Linked DNA regions of Homo sapiens. The protein of the gene in region 7 purifies or fractionates together with the protein of the main gene of each other region. This does not show direct contact. Each region holds a gene or a part of one and is shown on either strand. Other genes may lie near its edges.

Region 1 (3,500 bases), on a different chromosome or scaffold from region 7:
ATTGGTGTAGTTAGATTCTTATATTCAATGGAATTTGGAAAATATTTTTTATTTTATTATGTAAATAGCAGCCAGTGTTTATGCATTTAGCTTTAAGCTTTGATTTCTTTTTATCAACATGGCATATCTTTGATACTGACATTTGCAGAGTTTCTGCTACCTATTTATGGCTAAACTAAGCTTTGTCTAGTATGTGAGATTGTAACGAGAGAATGAAAATGAAAATTTAAAGAACAGCAATTTAGACTTTTCTGATGTTTTAGGATGGGTGGATTGCTTAAGATAAGCATTTCCACCGGATGTGGTGGCTCATGCCTGTATCTCAGCACTTTGGGAAACAGTGGGTCACTTGAGCTCAGGACAAAAAATTTAAGTTACCTGAGTGTGTTGGTACATGCCTATAGTCCCAGCTTCTCCAGAGGCTGAGGCAGAAGGATTGTTGGAATGTGGGAGGTTGAGGCTGCAGTGAGCCATGATGGTTGGTGCCACTGTACTGCAGCCTGAGTGACAGAGTGAGACTCTGTCTCAAAAAAAAATTTCATAGTTGTTTTTATTTTCACTGATGCATTATAGCAAGAAAGCATTAACAGAAGTAGTATGTGAAACTGTTTATGGATCAAAATCAGTGACCCCCCAGGCTGCTTAGTTTTCTTTTCAAAAGACAATTGATTTGACACTTGCTTTTAGCTTTAGAGAGGTTTTAGAATTGTAAGTATAGGCTTTTACAATGGAGGAGGTTGTAGGAAAAATGGAGGAGGCCGTAGGAAAAATTTGAACATTTTTACTTCTTAGTCTATTAAAATTACCTGTAAACATCTGATGTAGGAAGTTAGGAAAGATGCCAAGACATACTAAATTGATGTGAAGAGGGAAACTATATATGTATATAACTAAAATAATTAATCCCCAGGTGAATTGTTTCTGGCCACTTCAAAAAATTGTTTTTATGTTGGAAAGAATACACTCTTCTGAAGGTAATGTAGTTTCTGACATCATGCTAAATATATAGTATGCGCTGAATAAACAGGAACATATGGTGTGTTTCAATCATGAATTTAAACACTTGATGCATTTCAGTCATGGATTTAAAGGTATTTGATGGGTTTGAGTTGCAATTATTATCCTTTTTGACGGTCAAGTTGTCTCCCATTTGGTCAGTGGTAGCCTTTTCCAGTTGGCTCCAGAGTCCTTTTGACGTGACCTTAGTAGTTTTTGATAGTATCCTTATTCTCTGGTATAAGAATATGTTCCAAGCTCATTTCCTGCCCCAGATGTGAATCAGATATTTCTCAAGAAGACCTGCCTTTTAGTGGGAAATGGCATTTCAAGACTACAATCTTGGTGGTAGAGAAGTTTATTATTACTCAGCTACATAAAATACTAAGACTTGCAATTCAGAATGAGGAATACAGCGTTTTAAAAAGTTTTTTTTTTGTTTAGGTAAAATATACTTATATAATTTACTGGCCAGGTGCAGTGATTCATGTCTGTAATCCCAGAACTTTGAGAGGCTGAGGCAGGTGGCCCAGGGTCACTTGAGCCCAGGAGTTCGAGACCAGCCTGGGCAACATGGTGAAACCCGTCTTTACAAAAAATATAAAAAATTAGCCTAACGTGGTGGCATGCGCCTGTAGTCCCAGCTACTCCCAGCTACTTGGGAGGAGGAGGTAGGAGGATCACCTGAGCCTGGGAGGTTGAGGCTGCAGTGAGCCGTGATTGTGCCACAGCACTCCAGTCTGGGCAACAGAGTAAGACCTTGTCTCAAACACACACATGCACACTTGCACACTTATGTAATTTACCATCTTTACCATTTTAGTTTTCTTTCTTCTTTTTTTTTATTTTTTTGAGATGGAGTCTCGCCCTATGCCACACTGGATCGTAGTGGCGCGATCTCGGCTCACTTCATCCCCCACCTCCTGAGTTCAAGCGATTCTCCTGCCTCAGCCTCCTGAGTAGCTGGGACTACAGGCACACACAACTAATTATTGTGTTTTTAGTAGAGACAGGGTTTCACCATGTTGGCCAGGATGATCTCTATCTCTTGACCTCGTGATCCACCTGCCTTGGCCTCCCAAACTGCTGGGATTACAGGCGTGAACCATCGCCCCCGGCCCCATCTTTAGCATTTTAAGTGTACAGTTTGGTGGTAATAAATACATGTATATTCTTTTTTCTCCCCTTTTATCTCTCCTGTTCCTTGCTCAGTCTCTAGTAATCATCAGTCTTTAGACTCTTACCTTTGTGAGATCCACTGTTGTAGCTCCCACATATGTGAAAACGTGATGTTTGTCTTTCTGTGCTTGACTTAACTTCACTTAACATAATGGCCTATAGTTCCATCCATGTTGTTGCAAATGACAGGATCTAATTCTTTTTTATTGCTGAATAATATACCACATTTTCTTTTCCATTGATGGGAACTCAGGTTGGTTCCTTGTTTTAAAAAAATGTATTTTTGAGGCAAGGTCTTGCTGTTGCCCAGGCTTTAGTGCAGCAACTCAGTCATAGCTCACTGCAACCTCAAACTCTTAGGCTCAAGGGATCCTCTTGCCTCAGCCTCCTGAATAGCTAGGACTTACAGATAGGGTACATGCCACGATGCCTGGCTAATTTATAATTTTTTTTGTAGAGACAAAGTCTTGCTATGTTGCCTAGGCTGATCTCCAACTCCTGGCCTTAAGCAATCCTCCCAGAGTGCAAAGATTACAAAGCATGAGCCATTGCACTGAGCTGGTTTCATATTTTGGCTGTTGTGAATAGTGCTGCAGTAAACATGGGAGTGCACAGGGATTTTTCTTTTCTTTTCTTTTCTTTTCTTTTCTTTTTTTTTTTTTTTTTTTTTTTTTGAGACGGAGTCTCGCTCTGTCACCCAGGCTGGAGTGCAGTGGCGCGATCTCGGCTCGCTACAACCTCTGCCTCCTGGGTTCAAGCGATTTTCCTGCCTCAGCCTCGTGAGTAGCTGGGATTACAGGCATGCGCCACCACGCCTGGCTAATTTTTTTGTATTTTTAGTAGAGATGGGGTTTCACTGTGTTAGCCAGGATGGTCTCGATCTCCTGACCTCGTGATCCATCCACCTTGGCCTCCCAAAGTGCTGGGATTACAGGTGTGAACCACTGCGCCTGGCCCAGGGTTTTTATAACTTTTTGCATACCAGGAATCCTGGTTCTCTCAAGAACACAGGCAGGGTATGATAGAATCAGGATGTCTTGTAATTACTGATTGTAACCAACATTACACATCAGAAAGTCTAAAATAATAATGCGAATATTACTGCCACCAATATAATTACTAGGAATGTTAAATTTTTTTTTTTTTACATATTCTCTATTTCTAGCCCCCATTTAAAAGTTTTTCTGTCTCCCTTGTCTGAGCATATTGCTATTACGTAACTTTCCCTTTTGTTTTTTTTTTTTGAGACAGAGTCTCACTCTGTTGCCCAGGCTGGAGTGCAGTGGTGCGATCACAGCTCACCGCAACCTCTGCCTCTTGGGTTC
Region 2 (3,500 bases), on a different chromosome or scaffold from region 7:
TATTAGGTGCTGAAGATATAAAAGTGAACAAACTCACTACTGCTGTCAAGGCACTCACAGTCCAGTTTTGCACTGAAATGATGCCAATTTTATGGTTAAAGTATGTACAAGGTATAGATGATGCACAAATTAGTAAGTAGTCACTTCTGTCCTTTTCAGGAGTGGCATGAATAAAAGGCCTCCAAAAGGAGGTGATAATGCTAGTAATTTCTATCCAATTTCAGCATTTACATCTAAGTGTTAGCTATTACTGTATTTTACTACATACATAATTATTTGCTCCTTTGTGTGATAATTTTGCTGTCATATTTGTTCCTAAAAAGCTAATTCAGCCCATCATATTCTTTTTTAGAGATCTCATGAGTGATTACGCAGTCTCAGTAGTTTTAGGTTCTCCTCCTAATTCCCATACAATTCCTTGGTGGTACATGTGTGTGTGTGCGTGTGTGTGTATGTGTGTGTGTGTGTGTGTGTGTCTGTGTGTGTATCATTTGCTCATTCTGGTTTACTCTTTCTGGACTGAATCCCGGTATTTCCAGACTCACTCTAGGGCAAAACTGAATCCTTGCTACTTTTAGGCACCTGTGACAAAAACACTATTTTTGGTTGCTGACCTAAAATATTAAATACGCCCTATTTAAAATGGCTATTCCATAATATATTGAAAATTGGTACTGATATGGTTTGACAATTTTATTGGTTGCTTATTTATTCATATTCAATACTCCCATGGAAAATGAGTGACAGCTCTATCTTCTTTTCCTAAGATTTCATATAGAGTGTTTTTTAAGTTGCACAGTAGTATACATGTACTAGTCACCCAGTATTTACTTAATCTTTAAATAATTAAAAACTAGTTTTTTGTTTGTCCCAAATTTTGATTGTAAAGTGTACTCAGACCAGCCAGTGCTACAAAACCATCGTCCAAGATAGCTTCTTAAGGGATTAAATCAAATTATTTTTATCTCCTTCACCCATCATTAACTAAACTCTATGATATAAAACACTACTTTGAAGAACATGTTGCTTCATGATAAAATTGTAGAAATGTGCAGCTGGCTTATGTTGATTATTTGTGTTCTGAATCTATTTAAAGTAAATAAATCTGTGTGTATATACATATGTCTTGAGACATATGTATATACACACAGAGAAAGAAATATTCTATAATCTTACAACGTTTTCATACCATGTATTTAAATCACTTTCTTAAATTGACCAACTCATTTATTTTCCATTTATATTACAACATAGTATGACTGTGTGGGTTTGTATTTTTTTCTAAACTAAAATCACGTCAAATATAACAGGATTCTGTTTCATGTAGTCAACATAAGTCAAGGCCACATCCTCTTTGTGCCATCAGGGAACTGTGTTATCAGTCAACTTACATACTTATTGTGGCCCATTGTTCCATTTCAGGTGACATGGAGGATTTTGTGAGTCAAGTTAATTGAGCAAACTGGGAAATGGGTTGTTCTTACACAGGATGTCATCCATAACTAAGACCTCACTGTAAGCTGGAGGAAAAGTTTATTACATTTGAGAGAAAATTATATGTTCTTTGAAACTGTATGCAGTTGTAGTGATTTCCTTGAGACATGCAAAAAATGTACTAGGTATTCATTTTGACTAAGCTCACTGTATAACTTCATTTTTGAAAACAAGAGTTAAAAACCAGACAAACACATCAGTATGACCACAGTGTTTTCCTTTAATTTTAGTTCACTGGGCAGATTTTCTTGACAAAGTTAGTCTTTATGAAGAGTGCTAAAATAAGCAAACCCTTCCCTTCTGATCTCATAATATTGGAATAATCTTTTATAATCTTTAAATATTTTTCTAGTTCAGTGTAAATCTTAAAATGACACTCAGGCATTGAATAGAATTTGAATCATGCCTTTATTTGCTGCTGAAAATTGCCTTTAGATTTCTGTGTATGTTAAGGAAATATTGCCTCCCACCCACCATCACCAGTATTTATGAAAAAAAAAAGAATTGAATGAAGTAAAATATTTCAGAATCATCTGTACGGCTTTGTGGCCTTCTCCTTATTTTTCACTGAAACTGTATGTGCTTACAGCCAGTTTATGTATGCTCAATGCCTCTGGAATATTCTTTTATTGTTAACATTTGTTTTGGAGTTCTCTTATAAAACTTGAAGAAAATGGAGGCTAGAAAGTTTGTTCCTTCTTAAAATGTTCTTTTCTCAAAATAGGAATAGCTTTAAACTTAATATAATACACCTCTAAGAAGCCCCATGTTAGATTCAATTCAACAGACGCTTATTTATTAATGCCTACTATGTGTATTCCTCTTCTTTTGCATATTGTGGTTAATCTCATCTACTTTCGTCTGACAACTTCTAAACTGATGTCTCTGGTTTCATCCTCTCTGCTCAGCCCCAGATATGTGTTTATAACTTGCTTCATATTAATAGCCTGCTTATCTGTGAGTACATCAAGTGCAATAACCCTCAAACTAGGGAGGTAGCATTTGAACTAAGTCTTGAGAATGATTTTGATAGGGGTTGGAAGGTGCAAGTGGGGTAGGGACACAGCATTCCAAGCTGGAGGAAAATGACTCAGAAGTGGTAAATTTTCTAGCCATATTCTTGGCAAGATGATCTCTACTGTCACTTCCAGTTTTATAAAGTCTTATGTGCTGTATGTTTTTTTTAATCAGGCAAAATATACTTAACACTAAATTTGCCATTTTAAGTGTACAGCTCTCTGGCATTGGCTACATTCACATTGATTTTGTGTTTTTTTTGTTTGTTTGTTTTTTGGGTGGTTTTTTTTTTGTTTTGTTTTTTTGTTTTGCTTTTTTTTTGTGACAGGGTCTCACTCTGTCTCCCGAGCTGGAGTACAGTGGCGCAGTCTTGGCCCACTGCAGCCTCCACCTCCCAGGTTCAATTGATCCTCCCACCTCAGCCTCCCGAGTAGCTGGGACTACAGGCATATGCCACCACACCTGGCTACTTTTTTGCACTTTTTGTAGAGATGAGGACTCCCTATGTTGCCTAGACTGCTCTCAGACTCCTGGACTCAAGCGATCCTCCCACCTCGGCCTCCCAAAATACCAGGATTACAGGCGTGTTGTGCAGCCCTCACCACCACTGATTTCCAGAACAAATAAGGATTCCTTATTTTCAGATCTAGAAATTGAGTAGTTGTAATTTTAATGCTTAATGGTATATACTACTTTGTAAAGTCACATTTCAAGCTTTCTATGAACACGTTTTACTGACAGACAGTTGGCAAGTTTCTGTTTTGAATTAGTACAAACAAAAAGGCACACATTGTTTTTAACTTGGAAAACAGGTGCTTTCATTCATGCAGAACTGCAAAATAGGCAGGCATGTTTTATAAGATCTTTTTCTTTTAAATGTCAGGTGAATGGGAAGCTCTCTGAATTCATATGATAGAGTATAGTACTTGTTAGAAACAAACTTGTGGCAGAAGAAACAATTTTTAACCTATCCACCATTGTAAGAACCA
Region 3 (4,038 bases), on a different chromosome or scaffold from region 7:
TGCAATTTTTTTGTAGTTTTAAGTGTACAAGTCATTTACATTTTTGGTCAGATTTATCCCTAAGACTTTAATATTTTTAGTGATATTTTAAATTGCACTGTTCTTAGTTTCAACTTTCATTTGTTGAAATTAACTTCCAGTCCACCCTAGGACTACCATTAGCTGAAACACTGCCTCTTCTAATATATAAACATACAATTGATTTGTGTATTGATCTCTTACTCTGCAATCTTGCTAACCTCAATTATTGTAGAAGCTTTTTTATAGATTGACTTTTCTACATATACTTTCATGTAGTCTTTGACAAAAGACACTTTTACTTCTCCCCTTCCAAACTGAATGCATTTTTCTTTTTGCACTGGACACAATCTTCAGTACAAAGTATAACTATGCCCATACTGGTGCACATGTGGGTCTTAGATTGTAGCATCCTGCATGTAAACACTGAGAACAACTTCCAGCACTTGAATATCCACTCCTTCCCCCACCCACATACTGGCAGAATTCATGTTGGGAGACTACATTTACTATGAAAATACACCCCTCATTTGAAACAAGACTAGGATACACAGTAAAGAATGTTTATTCACTAAAATTTTGACAGACTGAAGGCCATTATTGCAGATTGGAAATAGGAAATTTAAAAGAACTACACGGACATTGAGTAAAATAACATGGGTTGAAATTTGCCTGGCAGTAGCCTAAAAGTAAATGGTCTTCAAGGTGCATATGAAGGAACTGTAGGAGGGAAATGGGATAATTAATTATTAATTATTAAATGTAACTAGTAATTAATAACTAATAATTAAATGTAGCCACACTAGCTTGGGGGATTTGAGGTGAGACATCTAAAATACTAAGTCATGGTGAGGGCTGGAAGACAAAAGAATGAATCACTTCATAGGAATGGCTGTGGGGAAGGGCTTGAAGGAATCATCCTCTGACTTCCATGTGAACCATGAACATTAAACATGGAGAAATGAGGAGCGGCGGCAGATCGGTTTGGGATGCATCTTCAGGGGATGCTGAAACAACAACCGCATTTGGTTTCCTCTACATCCCTGTCACCCCTCCCCCACAAGCCCAAGGAGTGGTCAGCAGTGGGGCTTTGTGATGTCAAAGCCACCTTAGGACCGCCATTGGCTGGGACACTGCCTGTATGATCAAACAAAGCTCAAGGGTGTGGCTTTGCCTTGTCACCAGGAGGGTATATATAGGGAGGGCAAGAGCTCTGGGACATCCCACTGGGAAGCTTCAACATAGCTGTGGAAGTCTGCAGTCTACAGGAGCCTACTATAGACATTCTACAACCAACCAGAATCATGGAACAGCCAACTTCCAGCACCAATGGGGAGAAGACGAAGAGCCCCTGTGAATCCAATAACAAAAAAAATGATGAGGTAAGATTGTCAGGTTTTGAAGGGAAGGTGAGGGTGAAAGAAAGACACACAGAGAGGGGGTGGCTCAAACAGCAACACAGGAATACTGCAGACACCTGTGGAAGTGGGGGACCCGCTTAATGCCAGAGCCCACCGCTGCTTACAGGCTGGGGTGCTTGTAGGTAGGGGTGGGAGGGGCCTGGGCAGTATGGCTTGCTGCCCGGCAGGATATTGATAAGATGTTTTTATGATCAGGCTGTTTGGTCCTTTTTCCAGTGGGATGTCATTGTGGTGTATCTTGAAACTTTGCCCAGCAAGATATGATAGGAAAGTTTCTTTAGTTGGACCTTTGTCCGTCTTGTGTTACGACGATTAGGCAAGATTTTTCTCATGGCCCGAACCCCCGTGGAATGTTTCACTTTGACCAAGGTCTGAAAAATAGCAGGGTGCTTACTAAATGGTGGTTTGGACTCACATTCTTGCCTTCTACTTTAGTATAAAAGGAAGAGGGGCATTGTTGATTATCTGGCTGCTTCCTGCCGAATAGGGGAGCTGTAATCAGGGTTTGGGTTTTGAAGCAGTGGGTGTTGGACTTCAGAGTTGTTTTCCTGGAGGCACTGGTACTGGACTTGGCAGAGGAGAAGGATGGTATCAATGTGTTGCTGGGTGGCCGCCTGGACAGGGGAGTTTAGCCTTCGGGAGATAAAGCGGGATATGAAGGTAAATATACATGGGCCAATTGTAGTATTAGGAGGAGGAAAATTAAGGGTCCTAAGAAAGGGGCCCCCTGCTATCTCAGTGCTGACTGCAGCAGAGATGTTTACTTCTGCTAACACTAGAATGAGATGTAGAGCCTGCTTAGTGTGTGTGGAGGAAGATGAGACAGAAGCTACTAAAGGAACCTGGATGGTCTGCTTGTTAGGCAAAATGTTAATGTTTAGGCTGAAACACCAGGGTGTATGTTCCTGACCATTTGGCCAGTAGGCAGAGATAAGAGTTTGTGGCACAAAAGAAGAAGACACTGGGGGTGGACAGACAAAAGTTGTAGGTTATGGTGGCAAGCCATGAGAAGGTGGGTGTTGAATTCTGCAGAAATTCTTTGTTTTAACTTTTATATTTTTCCAAGTTGAATAGCTGCCAGCAAGGGTAGCCCCTCTGACGGCCTGATAGGAAATGTTGGTGGTGGAGGAGATGGAGGCTGTTTGGTTTTGGAAAGAGAGGGGGAAATGGGTTTTTGTAACTAATAGCCATTGTAGCCCTGACAGGGCAGAAGGATATAGGTTGCACTTGAGGGAATTGTTTGTGCATGTTTTCCAGCGAGCGCCCTTGAGTTGGATAATATGAAGAGCGGCTCCAGCCAAGAGGGGAGGGGTTTCTAAAAGGTGTTTTATGGAATCCGTTTGTAACATATTCAGTTAAGAGGCTATGAGGCGAGGGAGGGTGACAGCCCTGTATGTGATGGTGTGGGTGGATTTGATGGATTGGGGGAAAAAGAGTTTAGCTGATCAAGATTATAAACAGGTTTGGGAATGAACTGGTCAAGTAGGTGAGATGCAGGCTTATTTTGGACCGAGTTCATGTGGCCAGGTTGACAGGAAGGGCTGTGAATTGCTGGATTTGTGTGGACAAACAAGTTTAACAGTTGGAAGGAAGAGGGGAGTGTGACTGATTTAAGAGGAAAGGTGTGAGGCTGATGAAGGGGGCTCAACTGTCAGAGGTTGGGGGTGGGGACTTAGAGTATCCCACAGACAAAGAGGACAAAAGAAGAAAGAGGAGATTTGAGTAGGAGTGAAATTTTGGAAGGTGCCCTGCAGTCATACCTCCTGGATTAGTATGACGAATTGGCATGGACTATTCAGGGACATGGGGAAGGGTAGCCAGGAAAGATCTGAAATAAAGTAGGAGATAAAAGATTGGAAATTGGAGACAGAGAGTGTTATGGACTAAGGTGTTCTGGATTGGCAACTTCTGGAATTCTTGTTAAGTACAGTGAGGTTGGTCCTGTCGGGGAAGGAGAATAATATGGGGGTGAGGAAATTTCTAGATGTGGGTCTGGTGCTCTTTTTAGTTTGGAATGGTGTATTCAGTGTGGAAAGGATGTTAGCTTTGCCCCAGTCGGAGTAGTTAGGATAACCTGGTGGGAACATTTCCGCTTAGGTTGGAAAGGGGAGGAGGAGGAGTCTGTGATTCAGACCCAGTCCCCTGGTTGTAGGGACAGGGCGGAGTATTTTGAGGATGGACTTTTAGGCTGGGTCAAGTAAGCATTTGTGTACTGTCTTATTAGATGTTGGGTGAGGTGTAACGCCGGCCAAGTATTCCATATAGAATGGGGGGAAAATACAGGGAGATTCTGGAGGATAAAAGGGCATTTGTACATGAGTTTAAATGGGCTTAGGCTGAGGAGCTTTTGGGAAATGACTCATAAATGCATGAGGAACAATGGGAGAAGTGAAGTCCAGGCCATTTTAACCTTTAGGGAAGATTGGTCAGTTGCTGTTTTCTAAAAAAGTTTCCCTGAAGATTCGGGGTGGTAAGGAATATGCAAAGCCAATTTAATGTTTACAGCCTTTACCAGCTGTTGGTTAAACTGTGAAACAAATTGGCCCGTTGTCTGACTGGATGCAAGAGGGGAGTTTAAACCGGTGGATAATATGGGTGA
Region 4 (3,500 bases), on a different chromosome or scaffold from region 7:
TCAAGCAATTCTCCTGCCTCAGCCTCCTGAGTAGCTGGGATTACAGGCATGAGCCGCCACGCCCAGATAATTTTTTTGTATTAGAGATGGGGTTTCACCATGCTGGCCAGGCTGGTCTCGAACTCCTGACCTCAAGTGATCCACCTGCCTCGGCCTCCCAAAGTGCTAGAATTACAGGCGTGAGCCACCACGCCCGGCCAAGTTTAGTTTTTGAACAAAAAGGGAGAAAGGAAGAAACCAGAGAAGAATTGAGGTGCGCTCCCTTGGACTCCCCCTTCCCTACAGGTCCCTTCCTCCCCAGCAGGGCAGCCTCTGCCTGTCCCCCGCCTCTTGTGACCGGCGCTGTCTGCCCTCTGTCCCCGCCCTGGCCCCACAGCACTCTCGAGTGGACCCTGAGGAGCTCTTCACCAAGCTCGACCGCATTGGCAAGGGCTCGTTTGGGGAGGTCTACAAGGGCATCGATAACCACACAAAGGAGGTGGTGGCCATCAAGATCATCGACCTGGAGGAGGCCGAGGATGAGATCGAGGACATCCAGCAGGAGATCACTGTCCTCAGTCAGTGCGACAGCCCCTACATCACCCGCTACTTTGGCTCCTACCTAAAGGTGCCTGTTGTGGGGAGGCGGGGACCCTGCTGGTGCTGTGCCCGGCTCTCTTCCATGTCAGAGGGACTGAGTGACATGCCAGAGGGTGCAAGGCGGTCTTGACGGTTCAGTGCATGCCCTCCGGGAAACTGCCCTGGGCAGGCAGGGTGTGAGCCCTCGTCCACGAGGGTCAGTTGGCTCTAAATGGCCATTGGGACCCACTTGCCTGCCTGTGGTAATGCAGTGAGGGCGCTGCTAGGAGCACTCTGGGGGGCCCCTACTGGCAGTGGTGAGTGGGCCTGTGAGGAGCAGGTGGCTGGTGGTGCCAGTGTCTGGGGTGTAGGGAACGCTGTGGCCATCCTGCCCAGGAGGGTGATGGGTGTGTCGGGTCACATGCTTGCCAGCCATGCCCTCTTCCCAGCCCTGTAGGACTGGATCAGCAGCCTGGTTTTTGATGGGGTCTTGGTGAAGTGGAGTCAGCCACTGCTGTGTGTACTCAACCTGTCCTCTGAGCATCTGTAGCAGTAGTGTGGCAGGAGGGGAAGATGGGCAAGGCCGAGAGAGCCCTTTCCTGTTCAGGGTTCTTGGCAGGGATGGGACCGGTGGGGCCTGGGCCCTGGCTGACTCCGGCCTGTGACTCCCACCCTGGAGCATGCCCTTCCTCTTGCTGCCAAATGCTGATGGGTTTGTCTCCGGTCCCAGAGCACCAAGCTATGGATCATCATGGAGTACCTGGGCGGCGGCTCAGCACTGGACTTGGTGAGGCATAGGCCATGGCAGTGGGGGGTCATGCAGTGTCCGAGTCCCCTGCCCCTCAGACTCATGGGCTCCAGGGGCCACCTCTCGTTTGGTGTCATGGCACGTTAGGTGTTAATTAGGAATCGTCTAAAGCAAAAATGAACTGCCATCTGCACGTCTGCCCAGTTGGTGCTGAAAGGGGTCCTGGCCTGTGGGAGTGGGCGGGGGCAGGCCTGCTGGGAGATGGCTGGGAGCCTATTTTTCTGTTACATGACAGTAAGGTGAGGCTGGTTTATATGCTTTAGAAAGAGCCTCCACCACCCCACTCCCATCTGAAACTTAGTTCTGTTTGGGAAGTAAAGGAACACGAAGCCCCCAGCTATCTGCAGGGACAGCCCTTCCCTGTGAGAGAGGCAGAGAACTCAGGCATTGGGCCTGGGACAGGAGCTGAGGCCCTGCTGTCGCACCTTCCTCTCCAGCTTAAACCAGGTCCCCTGGAGGAGACATACATTGCCACGATCCTGCGGGAGATTCTGAAGGGCCTGGATTATCTGCACTCCGAACGCAAGATCCACCGAGACATCAAAGGTCCTGCTGGGGGTGGATGTGGCTCTTGTAACGTCCTGAGCCCCACTGACCTTAGAGAGGCCGGGGCCTGTGAGGGGCAAGTGGCTAGTGGTGCCCAGGGTCTGGAGTATAGAGAACCTTGTGGCCACCCTGAAACTGAGCAGTCCTGTCTCGCTCCCTTTCCAGAAGATACTACTTGTAACGGTTTCCTTGTACGCTGAGGAAACCAGCTGTGGACTGAGTGTAGGAAAGGGCCACACTTGGCTGGAGTTGTTGGTTCCCTGTGGTGCACGGCACAGCAGCAGGTGTAGAATTGAGTAGCCCCAGCGTGTGGTCTGGCCCTGCTGAGAGCAGACGGGAGGCTGGGCCAGCCCATGGGGAGGGACTTGCCACTGGCAACGAGCCATCTCTGTCATGTAGGGGACGATTCTGGTGGAGCAGGGGGCTTCCTGGCAGGCCCGTGTTGGCTACACCCTTGGTCAGGGTCACCTCTGCGGTAGCCCCCAGTGGGCGAAGTCGCTTGTCGTTGGGATTTGTCGTAAAAGCCAAATGCAGGAAGAGCCCTGGAGCTCGGAGTGGAGCCGTTGGGCTCCTGCTGGCAGTGCCCCTGTGGCCCTAGGTGGCCCTGGGTTTGAGAGTGGCAAGGAGGGCTGAGGTCCTGAGGACAGCCCTGCTGTGCCCTAGGAGGCCAGGTGGATGGTACCCTGGCCCTTCTCAGGGGGCCCGGGGTGGAGCCACGTGGAGCCTGGGATGACGCCTGCCTGTCCTGTGTCAAGCAGCTGCCAACGTGCTACTCTCGGAGCAGGGTGACGTGAAGCTGGCGGACTTTGGGGTAGCAGGGCAGCTCACAGACACGCAGATTAAGAGGAACACATTCGTGGGCACCCCCTTCTGGATGGCACCTGAGGTCATCAAGCAGTCGGCCTACGACTTCAAGGTGGGTGCAGCGGGCGGGCAGGTGCGGGCACCATGCCTGGCTCGGGTGCTCAGGGCAGCAACAGTCCTTGTGTTCTGTCCAGGCTGACATCTGGTCCCTGGGGATCACAGCCATCGAGCTGGCCAAGGGGGAGCCTCCAAACTCTGACCTCCACCCCATGCGCGTCCTGTTCCTGATTCCCAAGAACAGCCCACCCACACTGGAGGGCCAGCACAGCAAGCCCTTCAAGGAGTTCGTGGAGGCCTGCCTCAACAAAGACCCCCGATTCGTAAGGCCCGCCTCTGGCCCGGTCCCTTCTAGACAGGACGTGGAGGGAGGGCGTTCGCTTGGGGTGGGCGGCACAGCCCGGAGGCCCAGGCCCACCAGCCTTGTAGCTGTGAGGGCCCGCCCCGGTCCAGGCTGCCTCACGTTTGCTTCCCTTAGGCAGAGCTTGGCTGGGCCCAGTGACTAGTGTTCCCCTGACCCCCTGCAGCGGCCCACGGCCAAGGAGCTCCTGAAGCACAAGTTCATCACACGCTACACCAAGAAGACCTCCTTCCTCACGGAGCTCATCGACCGCTATAAGCGCTGGAAGTCAGAGGGGCATGGCGAGGAGTCCAGCTCTGAGGACTCTGACATGTAGGGACCTGGTTTATCCTCATGGTGACCCTAGGTGCTGTGACGTGGGTGGTC
Region 5 (3,500 bases), on a different chromosome or scaffold from region 7:
ATTCTCAGCAGAGCACTTAGCACCAACTATTATTTTTCCTTGTTAAATTAATTACTTTTTCCCAGCAGTAGACTGTAAGAGCTCCATGTGAGCAGGTATTTTGTTTGTCTTGTTTGCTTTAGTTTCAGGGCCTAGAGTAGTATCTGGATACAGCGAAGGCACTCATTAAGTATTTGTTAGTTAACCAATTAATTATTAATATTTCGTAGTCACACCTTGAAGACCTCAACCTAGGAGATCTTTATCAAAAGAACCTTGATCTGCTGGCAGATTTGTCAAACTCCTGTCCAGGCTTTTGACAGATTTGGCAAATGCCGCTTTTCTCTTTTCAAAATTACATTAGTAGTCCTTGTAAAACTGTGTCTAACATTTTATTGTAACCATATTTGGATTTAATTTTATAAATTACGTTTGGAAAGAGGACAAGAGACTCTTTGTAAATAAGCCTGTAATTTTTACTGGTGACAGCTTTTGTCACCTAGAATCAATGTGCTTATTCTTTTTGAGATTGCTGAAATGAGCTTTGTAAATATTTTTGTTGTAATATCATTTTATGGTATATTCTTCAAATTATATTGCTTTATCCATGGTGAATTCCTTCTGGAAATGGAGTAGGGGAGCACCTTGGATCTTTTCTTTAAACCCAAGTACCCAGGTTTTTTTGTTCTGTGTTTTTTCTATTTTCACACCAAAGTTAAACCTTTACAGTATTAGTTTTACATATAGACAGTCTTGCATTGTAGATGTTGTAAGGCATTGTCTCTACATATAAAATTCAGACTTGGAATATTTGTAGGAGATGTTAATAACACACAACAGAGGATCGACTTCTGGGCATGTTGTTTTCATAATCATTCGTCAAGCTCTCATGCTTAGCCTTGTTTTAGACACTGTACCAGAATTAGAGGGAAAAAACATAATCAGCTTACATTACAGGATTTACACATTGATGTGGTTCAGTCAAAATGCAAATAGTATTGACAGATATTCAGGGGCAAAACACAGGGGCAGGATGAATTTAAAAAGCAAGGGGAAGGAAAGAAGAAAGAGGAGGGAGAAAAATGACTATGTTATTAGTCATTGCTCTACACTTGAAGGCTGTAACAGATGGACACTTAGATAACCTTCATGGTCTGGTTTAATTTACTGCATATAATTTCCACAGTTCTTTCAGATGATTAAATGAGTGGTTCTTGACAACAATTACGAACATTTAAAGGTGGAAATTTATGCATATTTCCCTAAATTGCATGTCAGGTAGTTCCTGCTATAATTTTGCTAAATGTCCATGAATCTCTTGAAAAATACAACTCATAAATGTGGAAGGCCTATACATAACTTCCATTTCCTCCCTCAGATTCAATAATAATATATCATTTTGTGGCACAAATCTTTTTTTCTTTTTTTCTTTTTCTTTTTTTTTTTTTTTTTTTGAGACAGAGTTTTGCTCTTGTCCCCCAGGCTGGAGTGCAGTGGCGCAATCTTGGCACACTGCAACCTCCGCCTCCTGAGTTGAAGCGATTCTCCTGCCTCAGCCTCCTAAGTAGCTGGGACTACAGGTGCATGCCACCATGCCTGGCTAATTTTTTGTATTTTTAGTAGAGGGGGGTTTCACCACGTTAGGCAGGATGGTCTTGATCTCCTGTCCTCATGATCCGCCTGCCTCCGCCTCCCAAAGTGCTAGGATTTACAGGTGTGAGCCACGGAGCCCGGCCCAGCACAAGTCTTTTATCTGTTGTTAATCTGATGTTATTTAGTGGAACACTTCAGATGCATTCATAGAATTATACATTTTACTAAATATATCACAGCTTGAAATATAGTTTCCCCATTTTTATCAGCTTTCATAGAATTCTTAATTGATTTTTAAATGGCTAATATTGCTTATAAAAAGTAGTTGATCAAGCTCTTAAATTCCTATTTCTGAGTTCCTTGTTCTAGTTCACACTAGACCAGAGGTCAGCAAACTTTTTTCATATAAATCCAGATAATAAATATTTTAGGTTGTGTGGGTCCAGTCATCACCGTCATAACTGCTGTTGCAGTGTAAAAGCAGTCATAGAAAATAAATGTGTAAACGAATGAGTATGGCTGTGTTCCAATAAAATTTTATTTATGGACAACAATATTTGAATTTTATGTAATTTTCACGTCACAAAATAGTCTTATTTTGATTGTTTTTCAACTTTCACAGTGGGTTGAATTTGGCCTGTGAACCGCAGTTTGCAAACGCTGCCCCAAACTCAAAGTCACATCGTGAATTGTATGTCACGTGTCTTCAGGAGAAGAAATTTGAAACAAATCCAGAGAGAATTGTGTTTTACCTTAGTTACTCCGTTACTTAGTAGTTATCAGCTATGTATTAGACCAGTCACATATCTGTTAAAATCAGATATTTGATTCTAAAATATCTCAAGATTAGTTCAGAAACCTTGAAGGTAAATAAATGAAGGACCAGGAAAAGACTTCAGCTTAAAAGTATCAGGTTTTTAACATTTTTGTTACAAATTGGATTTGTTTTCACTCACTTGGATTTTTATCTGCTTACTTTGAAACAGTTCATCAGGTGAAATCACTCTAGAATTATTAGGTCAGCTTCTTTTATTTTCATTTTTCTTCAGAGGCCACACTTCTGCGGAAACAACATGCCCAGGAGGAAAGATGCTTTATATTTCAGTTGTGTTACATATAGGTCAGACATTACTGTTTTGAACTCCAAATAGTATTCTCACTTTATAGTTGTATTTGCATTTTTATTATATTATTAATACATATTGCTTGAAACAAGCATGGTTTTTGGTTGTCAATCCTTTTGTTAAAATATAACTTTATTTATTGTTATTATTTTGAGACAGAGTCTCACTCTGTCACCAAGGCTATAGTGCAGTGGCATGATCTTGGCCTACTGCACCCTCTGCCTCCCAGACTCAAGCGATTCTCGTGCCTCAGCCTCCTGAGTAGCTGGGATTACAGCCATGCACCACCAAGCCCAGCTAATTTTTGTGTTTTTAATAGAGATGGAATTTCGCCATGTTGACCAGACTGGCCTCAAACTCCTGGCCTCATGTGATCTGCCCGCCTTGGCCTCCCAAAGTGCTGGGATTACAGGTGTGAGTCACCGCACCCGGCAAATGTAACTTTACTTTGAAGACTTTTGTCTTAATGGGATTAGAACTGCATTACCATTTAAAGATGAGTTTCTGCTGGTTCCCATAGAAGTGTCAACATTTTTCTACGCAAATTTTTTCTTTTTTTAATTTGAGACGGAGTTTTGCTCTTACTGCCCAGGCTGGAGTGCAATGGCGCAATCTCGGCTCACTGCAACCTCCGCCTCCCAGGTTCAAGCAGATTCTTCTGCCTCAGCCTCCGGAGTAGCTGGGATTACAGGCATGCGCCACCATGCCCGGCTAATTTTGCATTTTTAGTAGAGACGAGGTTTCTCCACGTTGGTGAAGCTGGTCTCGAACTCCCAACCTCAGGTGATCCACCGCCTCGGACTC
Region 6 (3,500 bases), on a different chromosome or scaffold from region 7:
TAGGTTAATGACACAGTGTTGAACTAAACAAAGATGAAGTCAAGTTGCTAAGCTCTTGTCTGGCATTGATTAGGGGGCTCATAAAATAAGTCACTCCCTCAGTTTAGTCTTGACAACCCAAAGAAAAACTTTGTGTACACTGAATGACACTTTCCTTGAAAAACTTCCAAATAGGATAAGGTTGATTTTCACATCGTTCTTGCCAGATAGGAAAAGCACAGCATCAACTCCAGGGAATTGCTAAATATTTGTGCTACCCCAGGCATATTGCAAAGATGATGAGACCTGAACAATGATGTTAGCATTAAAGTGTTAATGATGACTGCAGTCAACAAAGAAACTGCAGGATGAGTGGGCCTCAAACAAGAAAATCTGATGACAAGAGACCATGCAGGTAAGACTTAGAGAAGTGGACCAAGATTCAGACCAGGAAAATACCATAGCAACCCCCAAGGATCTCCATGGGTGGGAACATTTGGTGGTTCTCTTCCATTTTACCACGTTTGTACATAGCTCTGTTTATTTATGTTGTTTCCCCAACCTGCTACTCAGCCTAATTCTATAATTTCTTTTTGTTTCTAGTTCCTTCTTTCTGGGGATTGGTGAACTCAGCTTGGAATCTTTGCTCTGTGGGGAAACGGCAGTCGCCAGTCAACATAGAGACCAGTCACATGATCTTCGACCCCTTTCTGACACCTCTTCGCATCAACACGGGGGGCAGGAAGGTAAGCCACCATATTGCTTCCATGGTAAAGTTGAAGATGGGGCCATCTTGATTCTGAAAGCTAATCCTCAAGGCTTCAGTCTCTGTGATGAGTTTGTCCTCCCACCTAGGAATACCACAGACTTCAGACCTGCCGCCATTAGATAGAAATATGTCTAAATTGTGCTTTTTCTCCCTAACTAGTCAAACTTTTGTGCTTCTGATTACTCTGTACCTCCTGGAGGTTGCCTGAAGTCTTATCAGACAACCTTGGTACCCCCATAAAGGACAGAAAGCATAGTGGCCACCCCTGCCTATCATGCTGGGAAAATCTTTCCTCTAAGAAACTGCTTTACTAGGCCTTCTTTTAACCTCAGTGAAGTGAGAAAACCAATTAACAAAAATAAAATCAGACGTTCATCATCTTGGGAGGAAAAAAACAGACAAAAATCACCTTAGATGATTTATAAGAAAATCAATAATTAATCTTCCTAGGGGCATCTTGCTTGCTAAGAATCCTAGCTCCTGCACAGAAATGCTGAGCTGGGCTTTGTGATTCTCACACCTAAATCCCTCCTTCACTCTCCTCCCCCCATAACGAGCTCCTCTTTAATTTGTGGAAGGGCACAAGTGCCCATTGGGTCTTCTCATCACTGGAATCTTAGCACTTCTCTTGCTGGTTCATGTCTACTTGGCTATCTTTTACTGTTGAGTAGGTTGTTAAAGGTAAAAAAAAAATGCACATGCAGAAAATTGTGTTCAAAGGTAATTTAGCTATTGTTAAGAGAAATGGAAAATAATTTGTGTGCAAAAAATTGAGGTTAAAATTATTGACAACTTTTGATAATACCAGCGGCTGATTCTTCAGGGTTTGGGTCATTGGGCTCTGTTCTCTCTTCCTTTGTGCAGTCTGTTCACCATAAATACCATGAAGTTTGTAAGTTAACTTTTTCCCCTTCTGATGTATTGAAATATATTTTCTTGTACCATGTAACTGTCACAGATACACACACCCCTAATGACTCATCAAAAAGCTGTAAGTGACTTTGACTCAGGTCACAAAGCAGGTTTTAAAAGACATTGCATGTGGTCGACACCATTTAGTTATGCAGTATTTGTGTACTGTTTTAAATATGACTTGAGAAGCATTTTTGTGGAAAGGTCATATATAGGTCATTTAGTTTATTGCTCTGATTCCATATAAAACGATGCTATCCTAATTATTGTTCCATTTATAGTTTTATTTTTATAAATTCTGCAAGGAGCTTGTCATGGCTTCTAAGTACATTTCTCTTTAAAAAGGTGAATTATTTATTTAAAGTCGTGAACACGTGTGAGTTCGCTGGTCAGTATTTAAGAAGGAAAAGTTGTAGTTATGATTAAATATTCAGTCATTCTTTCTTTCTTGGAGAGGGTGATGTAGGGGATAATTGCATTCTAGGCAAAAGGAAAAGCAGGGGGTGGAAAAGCCCAAGATACAGAATGGGGTTTGGTGCCTGAGTTCCAGAATGCAGCTGAAAGGTAGCCAGCAAGGCTGAACACAGGGAGCGAAGAGAGGCTTGCAAGATGGTAGGCTAGAGAGGACAGCAGAGGGCAGGTCCTGAGGCAGTGTTCGGGAGCTGAATCCTTCGCCTACGAGTTATGGCAAGCATTTGAAGGGGTTTTAGATAAAGTACAGATTGGGATTGAGATGGAAAATGTGTCAAACTAACACAAACAATGGATATATAATTTTTACTTTCCATCAGAATGTCTTAAAGGAAAAATGTTGATGTGAAAGAAAAAAATGTCAACACAGCTTCTCCCTAAAATTTATTGGGAAAGAAGAGATTGGGAGATAGTCTAGTGTTAAAAATCACTCACATGTTATGACTTGGGTTTTTTTTTGTTTTAGAGATATTTTTTGAACAGATGATTTTGTATCTTTCCAATTCAGGAAAGTATACCTGATCCAAACCAATTTTCAAATGCATTGGAGTTTGGAATCTTGGCAACATTTACTTTTCATGATGTAAATATTTATATCTGGCACAATTTTTGTTGTCAGTGGTTTGAAGAGCTGAGAACTGTCTGATGGTTCCTTTTGCATTTGTGAAAGGTAGAAAATAAAATATAGTTGGTCGTGATAAACTAATTGGTAATGAAATGCCTTAATTTGCTAGGCAATAGGTAAATCATGTTTGTATCACATTTTGAAGGTGATGTTTAATGAGTTGGAAACTTGTTTTGAAAGTGAGAATTCAAATCACTGCTCTGATTTTTGTTTTCCCTTAAAGAAATACCCAACTTAATCGATTTGAAAATCACCCTGTAAGACTGGGAAGTTTTGTTGAATTTGGGCAAGATGTCACATTTTGAAGTCTGAGCCAAGCTGGGTGTCAGTACGTGAAATGCAGCCTAGTAACTACATGTTTTGTGTCGCATTTTTATCCACAAGCATTATTCTTTCTGGTGTTCAAGTGTATCTTATGCACAAAACTGTGATGCAGCTCTCTGGAAGCCCCTGACTTGCGTTACTATGTTTATTTTAACATATTTGACCTGACATTGGGCTCAAATGAAGGAACAAGGGCTTTCCTTACCATAGTTTAAGGCTAAAATTCAACCTCAGTACAAGAATAGCAAGGAATAATAGTTATTCCTTCTCATCCTATGCACTGTGCCTTGAGTGTAATAGAAAATATTCATTTTTATTTAAAAATGAGATTTATTTCACCTTTTAGCCTCATGTGACAGGTTGCAGTCAAAATGCAGTTCAAACTGTGTTTCATGCAAAAAGTTATTTAAAATATTGTAT
Region 7 (3,500 bases):
ATTCTGGTATCCACTCTTCATTCATGTTTATTGAGCATCTGGGCTGCCCCAGGTATCCTGGAAGCCGCCTGGGAAGGCGCAGTCTCCAGCCAGACTGACCGAGCAGCTGCTGTCCCCCACTGCAGGTCGCTGCGGAGGAGCTTTGCTGTCTGCTAGGCCAGGTCTTCCAGGTTGTTTACACGGAGTCCACCATCGACTTTCTGGACAGAGCGATATTTGATGGGGCCTCTACCCCGACCCACCACCTGTCCCTGCACAGCGGTATGTTGAGTGAGAGTGGGCAGCGGGTGGGAGCAGGGACAGGAGGGGCTACTGCAGTGGCCCCCAGCTCCCCATGAGTTACTCCTGGAATAGCGCAGTTACTGCCGTGACATGGTGGCCTTTTGTTTCCAGACTTTGCTGTTCACATTAGCCCATAGGGTTTCATGAAGGCAGAAGTGTCACCTGTCCTTGAGAGAGTTGCACCAGGTCAGCGCTATGGCTTCCTGGAATAAATTTGGGGTCTGTGAACACTTTTTTGGAACCACTTGTGGCTAAAGTCACTTCACTTAACTCGGAACAAAGAGCTTGGAGAAGGCTCCTAGCACTGGGGCCTGTGATGGAATTGGGGAGGCTGAGAGTGGGTCTGGGGAGCCTCCTTTTCAGTATGCCCAGACTATGGCTGCTCTTAATGTGAAACTCCTTCCAGGACCATGGCCAGACCCATGGGAAGCTGCTCAGGCTGCCCTGGGAGGCCAGCTGGCAGTGGTGGAGCAGTGGCAGATGGGGAAGAATGGAAGGTACCCCAGAGCTGTCTCTTCCTGCATGGCCCACACAGCATTTTCAGGAGTCTGTTAGTCCATTGAAAACACTTCATCAGCAAGCTCACTTGAGTTAAGTCTTCAAAAACATCATCTGTTTTTCAGATGTATTACTTATTGAGGATTAATGGGTTATATAAATTGAGGTGCATAAAAAGCTGTTGGAGGCTGGGTGTGGTGGCTCATGCCTGTAATCCCAGCACTTTGGGAGGCTGAGGCGGGCGGATCACCTGAGGTCGGGAGTTCAAGACCAGCCTGACCAACATGGAGAAACCCTGTCTCTACTAAAAAATACCAAGAAAAAAAAAAAGGCTGTTGGAAACAGTGCGGCTTGTTGAGTACAATTTCTTCTTTTTACGGAGATAAGTCCCAGCCCTCTGCCCTTTCCCCAGTAACTCGCACATCTCAGTGAAGAGAGTAAATGGTGGAGAAGCCTGTGCTGGTGTGAGGGCTGCTCCTCAGTGCCTCCTTCTTCCCTTTCTTGCTGCTGGTGCCAGAGCCCTTTGTGGGCACTACACGCCTTGTGTTGGCCCAGCAGCTGCAGAGAGACAGCTGCTGAGCTCTCAGGCATCCTCTCTATCTCATTTAGTCCTCGGTGGCCCAGCGAGATAGGTGCAATCTTCATCCCCATTTTAGAGATGGGGAAGTGGAGGCTTAGAAGTCAACAGCTTATCCAGAGGAATGTACCATATGAGTAGCAGATGATTTATCGAGCTGTAATTAAACATTCAGTTTTAGTGCGACTGGTTTGGCCCTTGTGCTTTAAAATTCCCAAAGGGCCTTTTTTTCTTTAATAATTTTTTTTTTACTGAGAAGTACACAAGTCATACATGTACAGTTGAATGAATTTTCATAAAGTAAACACATCATGTAACACCACTACTGGGGGTTGCTGAAGTGGGCTTCTTCCCCTGCCAGCCTTTCCCAAGACCTCCCCGTGGGATCCACACACAGATGTGCACACGTTACGCACATGCATGCATTCTCTGCTTATTTCTGCCTTGGAGTTTTGCTTGCTGTGTTCTCTCTACTACAGCTATGCCAAAACATAGCAGCATAAACAGCAGAAATATATTCTCTTATAATTCTATACGTTAAGAGTCCATTGTGGGTCCCACTGGGCTAAAGTTGAGGTGTCCACAGGGCTGGTTCCTTCTGGAGGCTCCAGAGAAGAAGCCATTTCCTTGTCTTTCCAGCTCCTAAAGGCGGCTGCATGCCTTGGCTCATGGCCCTTCCTCTGTCTTCACAGCCAGCCACGTGACCTCTTCCACAGTCACATCTTCCTTTGACTGTCAGCTTCCTCTGCATTTCAGGACTCTTGCAATCACATTGAGCCCACCCAAATTCTCCAGGGTCATCTCCCTATTTCAAGGTCAGCTGATAAGCATCCTTTACTCCCCTTTGAAATTGGTAACATATTCACCAATTCCAGGGATTAGGATGTGGACGTCTTTGGGGGGTCATTATTCTGCCCTCCATACTTACCTTGTTCCTAGTGCCAGAAATGTCCCTTTTATCTCTCAGCCTCTCCCTCTGCTTCATTTAAAATCTTACCCTCTCTGCAACACTCACCTGCCTCGCTCACAAAGCTTTCACTCACTGTCTGTGCTGGTGTGAAATGTGCCTTCCTCAGGTTTGAAATAGCAAATTACAGTCTGTGTCACACGGACCTAATGTCATTTGTTGAATGTAGCTGCTCAGTGCCAGACCCTTTGCTGGTCTGAGGGTCTTGGGAATCCTGTGGCTTCACTGGGTTCAGATGGGGAGTCAGACTGCCCGGCTCTGACTGTGGTTTCTGCTGTGTGACCTGGGCCAAGTTGTGTAACTCTCTGACTTACTTCCTAATCTACAAGTGAAGACAGGGGTGATATATGCCTGGGTTAAAGGAGACAAAGCCCCAGTAACCCTGCCTGGCACATGAGTGATACCTCAAAGACAGCTTTTGCTGGCTCTGGCCATGGGTGAATGTGTACTTCAGCCCAGCGTGCAGCAGGATTTGCATTTGCCAGGATCCCCAGGAGGGGTGTATGTGGGCTCAAGTCTGGGAAGCCCTGCCCTGAGGCACACAGCACATTCCAGAGTGCGGGCAGCTTGATGAAGGACAGCAGGGTCCCTGAAGACCAGGGCTGCCGCTGTCTCCTGTAAATACAGCAGTGGGCTGGACTCAAAATGCCTCCCCACTATGTCCCTGAAAGTCATCTTAGTTTTCTGCATCTTCCTTACAGATGACTCTTCTACAAAAGTGGACATTAAGGAGACCTACGAGGTGGAAGCCAGCACTTTGTGAGTGCACATGCCACCAAGCCCTGCGGTGGGACACGCACCAAATGCGTTGTCTGGTGTTGTCCAGGCTGCAGCCAGTCAGCTCCCCCATCTCAGCTCACCCTCGCTAAGCCATCCCCAGACCCACTGTACCCAGCTTAGTGAATGGCTGAGGCCTGGCTCGCCGCCCTCTCCTCGTAGACTTCTAGAGCCCTTGCTGTCCCTCTTGTCTCTCCCTGCCTACCTTCCCATGGCCTCCCAAGAGTGAGCTTGTAATAGGCATGTTGGATGGAGCTGTTCCCCTGCCCGAGCCTGCCGAGGCGCTGGCCTTCCAGCCCATCTCTGCCACCACCTGGGGCTCTGTAGTAGTTCACCCACTCGCGCTCTCCATTCCTGCCACCTCCCCAACCCTGGCTCCTTCCCCTGCCCAACAATGCT

What was found.
Region 1: the proteins of CCM2 (region 7) and PPP4R2 purify together in Homo sapiens (co-immunoprecipitation; one large-scale study listed by IntAct). This does not show direct contact.
Region 2: the proteins of CCM2 (region 7) and STK26 purify together in Homo sapiens (affinity purification with mass spectrometry; 2 studies listed by BioGRID and IntAct, with this or other methods). This does not show direct contact.
Region 3: the proteins of CCM2 (region 7) and SPANXN3 purify together in Homo sapiens (co-immunoprecipitation; one large-scale study listed by IntAct). This does not show direct contact.
Region 4: the proteins of CCM2 (region 7) and STK25 purify together in Homo sapiens (co-immunoprecipitation; one study listed by IntAct). This does not show direct contact.
Region 5: the proteins of CCM2 (region 7) and CMSS1 purify together in Homo sapiens (affinity purification with mass spectrometry; one large-scale study listed by BioGRID and IntAct). This does not show direct contact.
Region 6: the proteins of CCM2 (region 7) and CA10 purify together in Homo sapiens (co-immunoprecipitation; one large-scale study listed by IntAct). This does not show direct contact.

Annotation. Positions count from the first base shown.
Region 1 is NC_000003.12:72,999,811-73,003,310, forward strand, and holds part of PPP4R2 (serine/threonine-protein phosphatase 4 regulatory subunit 2), read left to right. Parts: intron 1-3,500. UniProt on the Homo sapiens protein: Regulatory subunit of serine/threonine-protein phosphatase 4 (PP4). May regulate the activity of PPP4C at centrosomal microtubule organizing centers.
Region 2 is NC_000023.11:132,057,802-132,061,301, forward strand, and holds part of STK26 (serine/threonine-protein kinase 26), read left to right. Parts: intron 1-3,500. UniProt on the Homo sapiens protein: Serine/threonine-protein kinase that acts as a mediator of cell growth. Modulates apoptosis. In association with STK24 negatively regulates Golgi reorientation in polarized cell migration upon RHO activation.
Region 3 is NC_000023.11:143,514,676-143,518,713, reverse strand, and holds the start of SPANXN3 (sperm protein associated with the nucleus on the X chromosome N3), read left to right. Parts: upstream 1-1,238; 5' UTR 1,239-1,322; coding exon 1,323-1,400; intron 1,401-1,819; exon of another isoform or gene 1,820-2,024; coding exon of another isoform or gene 2,025-2,099; intron 2,100-4,038.
Region 4 is NC_000002.12:241,498,585-241,502,084, reverse strand, and holds part of STK25 (serine/threonine-protein kinase 25), read left to right. Parts: intron 1-376; coding exon 377-607; intron 608-1,288; coding exon 1,289-1,345; intron 1,346-1,803; coding exon 1,804-1,912; intron 1,913-2,670; coding exon 2,671-2,828; intron 2,829-2,910; coding exon 2,911-3,096; intron 3,097-3,300; coding exon 3,301-3,446; intron 3,447-3,500. UniProt on the Homo sapiens protein: Oxidant stress-activated serine/threonine kinase that may play a role in the response to environmental stress.
Region 5 is NC_000003.12:99,824,362-99,827,861, forward strand, and holds part of CMSS1 (protein CMSS1), read left to right. Parts: intron 1-3,500.
Region 6 is NC_000017.11:51,928,215-51,931,714, reverse strand, and holds part of CA10 (carbonic anhydrase-related protein 10 precursor), read left to right. Parts: intron 1-582; coding exon 583-725; intron 726-3,500. UniProt on the Homo sapiens protein: Does not have a catalytic activity.
Region 7 is NC_000007.14:45,069,701-45,073,200, forward strand, and holds part of CCM2 (cerebral cavernous malformations 2 protein), read left to right. Parts: intron 1-125; coding exon 126-261; intron 262-688; coding exon of another isoform or gene 689-837; exon of another isoform or gene 838-2,049; coding exon of another isoform or gene 2,050-2,172; intron 2,173-3,025; coding exon 3,026-3,083; intron 3,084-3,500. UniProt on the Homo sapiens protein: Component of the CCM signaling pathway which is a crucial regulator of heart and vessel formation and integrity. May act through the stabilization of endothelial cell junctions. May function as a scaffold protein for MAP2K3-MAP3K3 signaling.